2 linked regions of the Homo sapiens genome follow. The protein of the gene in region 1 interacts with the protein of each later gene in a pairwise test. Each region holds a gene or a part of one and is shown on either strand. Other genes may lie near its edges. The genes, in order: PELO and ICAM1.

Evidence for each region.
Region 2: the proteins of PELO (region 1) and ICAM1 interact in binary tests that used the Homo sapiens proteins (3 or more experiments, as listed by UniProt).

Annotation. Positions count from the first base shown.
Region 1 is NC_000005.10:52,790,678-52,794,599, forward strand, and holds part of PELO (protein pelota homolog), read left to right. Parts: intron 1-3,922. UniProt on the Homo sapiens protein: Component of the Pelota-HBS1L complex, a complex that recognizes stalled ribosomes and triggers the No-Go Decay (NGD) pathway.
Region 2 is NC_000019.10:10,273,975-10,277,896, forward strand, and holds part of ICAM1 (intercellular adhesion molecule 1 precursor), read left to right. Parts: intron 1-790; coding exon 791-1,054; intron 1,055-3,922. UniProt on the Homo sapiens protein: ICAM proteins are ligands for the leukocyte adhesion protein LFA-1 (integrin alpha-L/beta-2).

The sequences.
Region 1 (3,922 bases):
CTTGTAATTACAATGTGCCTACCAGAATAATCTCCTCATCTCAAGATCTTTAATTTAATTACATCTTCCAAGTCCCTTTTACCATCTAAGATAACATATTCACAGGTTCCAGGCATTAGGTCATGGATATCTTTGGGAGACCATTATTCTGCCTACCACAACCCATAAGCATAAACTGTCCATTATAGCCAATCACTTTTCTTTACTTTCTCCATAATCCTCATGTTCATTTTGCCACTGAAGATATGACCTTGTTTTATACATCGAGAAAAGAATTCCACCTTTCCATCCTACCACCCTCTGACATCTAAATAAACTCTCTACAGCCTTCCAAACTGGGTTTACATCAGAACAACAAGCCACCAGCATCCCAATAAACTTCCTATTTGATTTAGACTGTCTTATATTAGCTCCTTACAACGTTTACTAAAATGATTCATCAAAAAGATGTCCTTATGTCCAAAGGATTGTTATTTTATGTATGTCAAAGTCTCAGCATAAACTGATGTCACATATAAAGGATTTAACTGAAGACAGTTTCATAAAGTGACAGTTTAGAGAGGCCTTAAAGGAACAAGAAAAGAGGGTGGAGCATCTAGCGCAAGCAACAGTAGGGAAAAAAGAACCTGAAGCAAGGTGAGAAGAAAAACCATGACCATTCCTAGGCCTGAGGAGGTGGCAGTGTTAGTTTGATTATGAACTCTAGTTATGGGAGGGTGGCCATTAGACTGGAGTTGTGGTCATAAAAAGGAATGCAGCTAGTGACAAAATTGAAGCCCAGCAGAGAAGGAGTAAGGAAAATAAATATACCTCCTTTCCTCCCACCCTCTGATGTCTTGCTCAGCCTTCCCATTGGCCATCCCCAAATGGCAAGATCCAACCTTCCAGAGAACAAAGGGCAAGACAATCAATAACAGAATAGCTAGCACAACTTAACCCCGAAATGTATTATGTGCAAGGCACTGTGCCAAGGGCTTTGCATGTATTATTTCATTTTAATCTAAAAAATTAAGTTTACTAATTGATCACAAGCAGTCACAGATTTCTTTGTTCTTTTTTCACTCCCTCAGCTTGTTGATTAGCCTTGAAAAAAAGAAAAGAAAAAATTAAAACTTTATAACTATTATCAATATTTTAGAGATGAGGAAATCAAAATATAGTATTAAGAAGTTAATTTCATTTGTCCAAAGTTGAAGAACTAATGACAAATCTACTCAATTCATATCTCTGACCTCAAATTAAATGCTCTAAAATAATATGCTATATTGGCTGCCTAAAGATAAGTTCATTCTCTCTTGCTCACTCCTCTAAATGTGAAATCCAAACATAGTTGTCTAAAATACTTGGATAAAGACCTAATTAATGATACAAGTCAATCTTTTATTTCCATGATTTTTAGGTGTACAGCATTAAGTGTAACTCAAGTAAGACTACTATTTCTCGTTATTAAGAATATAAATATAGAATTAGCCCTAATTAAACTATATGTCTCTCTTCCCTAGAAACATTTTGGTTGGCCTAGAAGCAAGGGTCTTCTTTTCACAGGCAAGATTTCCTATTCAAAATGAAATCCAGTGAGGAGATGGGAGATGGCTGAATATGGGGAGGAAGTCAGCCACTTATTCAAAACAAAGAATGACTCCCAATGGCAGACAATGTATTGTCAGGAATTGCTGAAGATGGTGAAAATTGTCTTACTCATTGTGATGTTTGTAAAGGCAGCAATGAATTCACGGGATTTTTGTTTGTTTAGTAAACAGGCAATGAGAGTAACCATGAGACACATATATATGCTATACTAGTTTAACTATTTCTCTTCCCTCCTGTCATAACACTTACCCAGCTATTTTGAAGCATGAGCTCTTGGGCCACAGCTTATCACTGATGTTCTGACTTCAGTAGATAGATGCTCCTCTAACATGTTCCTCCACTTCCAACCCAATAAACTTCCCACTAGATTTAGAACTTGCTGAATTTCCACATCTTAACATATTTTAGTAGAATAAAGTAGCTCATGTTTAAAATATATTTAGAAAAGTTGGGGACTAAAATGCTATTCTTTACCTACACTTCTCTTCTGTTGTGTGAAATACAAAATAGTGTACTCAAATTCATGTTAAGAAACTGAGATGAAAGATATTTTGAAACTGTTGCCACAGTGCTAAAGTCAGAATAGATTGCCTATTCAGAGCAGTCTGTGACTGGAGAATTGTATTCGCCCTCAAAGCAAGTACAGTAGAGTATCAAGAGATGCAAATGACTGCATATATTTCTATCTTCAAGATTATTGAGCTTCTTTCAGCTCCTTTATTATGCCAGCTACTCTAAAGTCTCCTTGGGGACTTTGCATAAGTAGTTACTCCCACTGCTACTGATCTCAATCCCTGAATAAACGTCATTTCCAAGAGATACCCTGAAGTAGATTGGACCCTACCTTAGGACATGTGTATCCCAGCACCTTTGCTTCTATTATATAATGCACCACGGTATTATAATTAACTATCTAATTGCCTGTCTTTCCAGCTTGCTGTATGCTCTGTGAGGGTAGGATCTTTAACCATAACACCTAGAAATAATAGGCACTTTTTAATTGAATGAATCGCAAAAGAATTGACTATTGACAAACTCAGAAAATACTTAAGGGATCAGATTGTCCCTTTATTATATACCTCTGCCTTATTTTATTATACCTCTGCCTGAAATATTTCTGTCTATCCAAATTTATAAATAATGGAATGGAAGACACCATCAGTTGAAAGATGCACCATTATTTTATGTACCACTAAAAAAGACAAGCCACTCCCAATCCAATTATAATTGCTAGATTGTTAGATAGTTCCTAGTTTCAGAGATGTCAAAATTGGGAAAATGTGCGTCTGAAAATTACAATCAATAATATACAGTGTATGGTACTTTTTACCATGGTACTTTTCTATTTGTTTGGACACTTAAAAATTGTGTCATAAGATTTTGAAGAGGCTAGTATGTGAACCCCATCTAGATACAGAGATATAACATTGTTCCTCTCAGTTCTCTTCAAGTGCCAAGTTTATATCTGATTTAGGGGATAATTGCTCCTCTGGCACCAACAGCCTCACCAGATCCCAAAAACAGAGCTCCCTCCAAATGCTCTATCTTTAGAAGAGAGCTTCAGGAGAAAGGTGACAATAAAGTAATCATATAATGTTCCAGTTGCACAGGATTAATGACTCTAGCTTTGGCAAACTCTTAACTTTTTGTCATGTTGGTGGTAAGCTCCAGGGTTGTGTATATAGGAAGAAGACTAATTTTAATCAAAACTTTCCTATGATTTAAAAGGAAGATAAAAAAGTCAACTAAGTTTTAAAAGGAAATTAAAATGCATATGCTGGTTGGTGTTAGGAATTCACTTTATGTGTTAAAAAAAATCAATTTTATCCAAACAGGAGATCCCTATTAACAAGATAAGTAAGAGATCTGAAATGAGAAATCATTGTAATTCAAATATGCAAAGGAGTGGATACACATACTCTTTTTGTATGAATTATATGAGATCTCCTAAAATAAATGCAAATTCTTAAATTTAAATATAGCACCTAAGTCACTTTAAAACATCAATAGTTAAGATGGTTTATATATTTTGTTACAAATCATATATCCTTACTACAAATTAAATGTACTTTCAAAATTATTTTATTAATTAGACTTTTATTTTACCAAATACTAAAGTCTAGAAATACATGGGTACTGGCCAATCCTTAAAAATATCTGTGTAACACATTTTACTTATAATATTTTTGGTGAAATGATCTTATGCCGTATAAGAATACATGCAAATAGAAATACACACACACACACACACACACACACACACACACACTTCTGTTCATAGGATTTTGTTTATTTGGTAGGAGGTTTTGTATTATTTTGTGACAACTGCAAG
Region 2 (3,922 bases), on another chromosome or scaffold:
CTGCACTCCAGTCTGAGTGACAAAGCGAGACTCCATCTCAAAAAAAAAAAAAATAAAAGAACACATCTTTAGCATGGCCTTCAGTGCTCACGGGATCTTCCTGAATTAATCTCCCCCTCTTCATCCTTGCTCACTCAGCTCCAGCCACCCTGCCCCGGGACATCTGTACTTGCCTGGAACTTATTTCCCTTTTCTCCGGACAGCCAGCCCTTTCTCGTCATTTAGATCTCTGCTGAAACATTACCCTGTCACCAAAGCACTGTCTATTCTATCACCCTGTTTTGTTTTTGTCAAAGCTCATATTAACATCAGTTATTAATTATCTTGTTTGCTCATAATTTTTTTTTTTTTTTTTTTGGAGACAGAGTCTCGTTCTGTTGCTCAGGCTGGAGTGCAGTGGCACAATCTTGGCTCACTGTAACCTCCACCTCCCAGGTTCAAGTGATTCTTGTGCCTCAGCCTCCCAAATAGCTAGGACTACAGGCACGTCCCACCATGCCCAGCTAATTTTTGTATTTTTAGTGGAGACGGGGCTTTGTCATGTTGGCCAGGCTGATCTCAAATTCCTGACCTCAAGTGATCTGCCCGCCTTGGCCTCCCAAAGTGCTGGGATTACAGGCGTGAGCCACCACACCCGGCCTGCTCATGAATTTTCTCTTTAACTTCCACATCGAAGGCAAAGTATTGTCTTGTTAAGGCTGTGCCTCCAGCACCCAGCACAGGCTGGGCGCACATTCCCTTGATGAACCTGATTTGTAATGCCTGTCGCCTCTTCCCTCGTTTCTTCTAGGACCTGGCAATGCCCAGACATCTGTGTCCCCCTCAAAAGTCATCCTGCCCCGGGGAGGCTCCGTGCTGGTGACATGCAGCACCTCCTGTGACCAGCCCAAGTTGTTGGGCATAGAGACCCCGTTGCCTAAAAAGGAGTTGCTCCTGCCTGGGAACAACCGGAAGGTGTATGAACTGAGCAATGTGCAAGAAGATAGCCAACCAATGTGCTATTCAAACTGCCCTGATGGGCAGTCAACAGCTAAAACCTTCCTCACCGTGTACTGTGAGTAACTGAGCCCGGAGGGCTGGACTAGGCAGACCCGGTGGGAGAGACGTGCAGGGGCACCTGCAGAGGCCTGGGGGAATCTTTGCCACTTGCTCGTAGGGTCAAGGAGGGGCTCCTTGCAGGGCAGGTGGGGACATCCTTGGAAAGTCCCTTTGTGAATTTCTTTGGGTACAATTAAAGTATTTACAGGCTGGGTGCGGTGGCTCATGCCTGTAATCCCAGCACTTTGAGAGGCTGAGGCTGGCGGATCACCTGAGATCAGGAGTTTAAGTTTCGCCAACATGGCGAAACCCTGTCTCTGCTGAAAATACAAAAATCAGCCGGGCATGGTGTCAAGCGCCTGTAATCCCAGCTACTTGGAAGGCTGAGGCAGGAGAACGCTTGAACCTGAGAGGCAGAGATTGCAGTGAGCCGCGATCGTGCCAGTGCACTCCAGTCTGGATAACAGAGCAAGATTCCATCTCAAGAAAAAAAAAATGCCATCTCTCTATGCCTCACTCTTTGAACATATGACACGGTCCTGCTTCAGACACTTTAATAAAAGATGCAAATTAAGCCAAGTGTGGTGGCTTGTACCTATAATCCCAACTACTCCAGAGGCTGAGGCAGAAGGATGGTTTGAGCCCAGGAGTTTGAGACCAGCCTGGGCAACAGAGTGAGACCCTGTTTCTTTCTTTTTTTTTTTTTTTTTTTTGAGACGGAGTCTCACTCTGTCGCCCAGGCTGGAGTGCAGTGGTGTGATCTCGGCTCACTGCAAGCTCCGCCTCCCGGGTTCACGCCATTCTCCTGCCTCAGCCTCCCGAGTAGCTGGGACTACAGGCGCCTGCCACCATGCCCGGCTCATTTTTTTGTATTTTTAGTAGAGACGGGGTTTCACTGTGTTAGCCAGGATGGTCTCAATCTCCTGACCTAGTGGTCCGCCCGCCTCGGCCTCCCAAAGTGCTGGGATTACAGGTGTAAGCCACTGTGCCCATCCAAGACCCTGTTTCTACCGGAAAAAAAAAGTAAATAATTTAGCTGGGCATCGTGGTGTGCACCTGTAATCCCAGCTGCTCCTGAGGCTGTGATGGGAGGATTGCTTTAACCCAGGGGTTCGAATCCTAGGAGTTCGAATCCATCCTAGGCAACATAGCAAAACCCCATTTTTATTTAAAAAAAAAAAAAAAGATATGAGTTAAAACTAGCCCTGGGATGGCATTTTTCACATATTGGTAACAAACAAAAGAATTGATGGCCGGGCGCAGTGGCTCACGCCTGTAATCCCAGCACTTTGGGAGGCCGAGGCGGGCGGATCACAAGGTCAGGAGATCGAGACCATCCTGGCTAACATGGTGAAACCCCGTCTCTACTAAAACTACAAAAAATTAGCCGGGCATGGTGGCAGGCGCCTGTGGTCCCAGCTACTCAGGAGGCTGAGGCAGGAGAATGGCATGAACCCGGGAGGCAGAGCTTGCAGTGAGCCAAGATCGTGCCACTGCACTCCAGCCTGGGCGACAGAGCAAGACTCCATCTCAAAAAAAAAAAAAAAAAAAAGAATTGATAACAGCTGTGCTGCCAAGGCTATTGGAACGTAGGAGGTCCTAGGACAGTGCTGTTGGGAGCATAAATAAGCCCAACCCTGTGGCGGGAAATTGGGCATCAGTTCTCAAAATGTCATGGGCTGGGCACGGTGGCTCACGCCTGTAATCCCAGCACTTTGGGAGGCTGAGGGAGGCGGATCACTTGAGGTCAGGAGTTCGAGACCAGCCTGACCACCATGGAGAAACCCCGTCTCTATTAAAAATACAAAAAAAACTAGCCAGGCATAGTGGCACATACCTGTAATCCCAGCTACTCGGGAGGCTGAGGCAGGAGAATCTCTTGAAACTGGGAGGCAGAGGTTGCGGTGAGCTGAGATTGCGCCACTGCACTCCAGCTTGGGCAACAAGAGCAAAACTCCATCTCAAAAAAAAAAAAAAAAGAAATAAAAGAAGGTATGTTGAATATGAGTGGTATGCCACCCTCACATTAGGGAAGGGCAGTTTCGGGGAGGCTGTATTTATGTATAAAATAGCCCTAAAAGGAAGTGGGAGAAATGACAATATTAGCTGGCTATGAGAAGAGAGGCTGGGAGGCTGTGGGAGAGGGCTTGGGTGTGGAGAATTCTTTTTGTTTTTTCCTTTTTTTGAGACAGAGTTTCACTCTTGTTGCCCAGGCTGGAGTGCAATGGCACGATCTCAGCTCACCGCAACCTTCACCTCCTGAGTTTAAGTGATTCTCCGGCCTCAGCCTCCCGACTAGCTGGGATTACAGGCATGGGCCACTACGCCTGGCAAATTTTGTATTTTTAGTAGAGACAGGGTTTCTCCATGTTGGTCAGGCTGGTCTTGAACTCTGACCTCAGGTGATCCGCCCGCCTCGGCCTCCCAAAGTGCTGGGATTACAACGTGAGCCACTTTGCCTGGCTGAGAATTCTTTTTTTGTTGTTGTCTTTTTGAGATGGAGTTTTGCTGTGTCCCCAGCCTGGAGTGCAATGGTGTAATCTCAGCTCACTGCAACCTCTCCCTCCCGGGTTCAAGCAATTCTCCTGCCTCAGCCTCCCAAGTAGCTGGAATTACAGGCGCCCAGCACCACGCCCGGCTAATTTTTGTATTTTTAGTAGAGACGGGATTTCATCATGTTGGCCAGGCTGGTCTTGATCTCCTGACCTTGTGATCTGCCCGCCTCGGCCTCCCAAAGTGCTGGGATTACAGGCGTGAGCCACTGCCCCCAGCCGAGAATTTCTCTTTGCGTCCTTCCTACTTTGGGGACTTCGAATGGTGGGAAAGAGTTATCAAGGCCAAAATAAGGAATTCAAATGAAAACAAAACAAAATCAAAGAAGAAA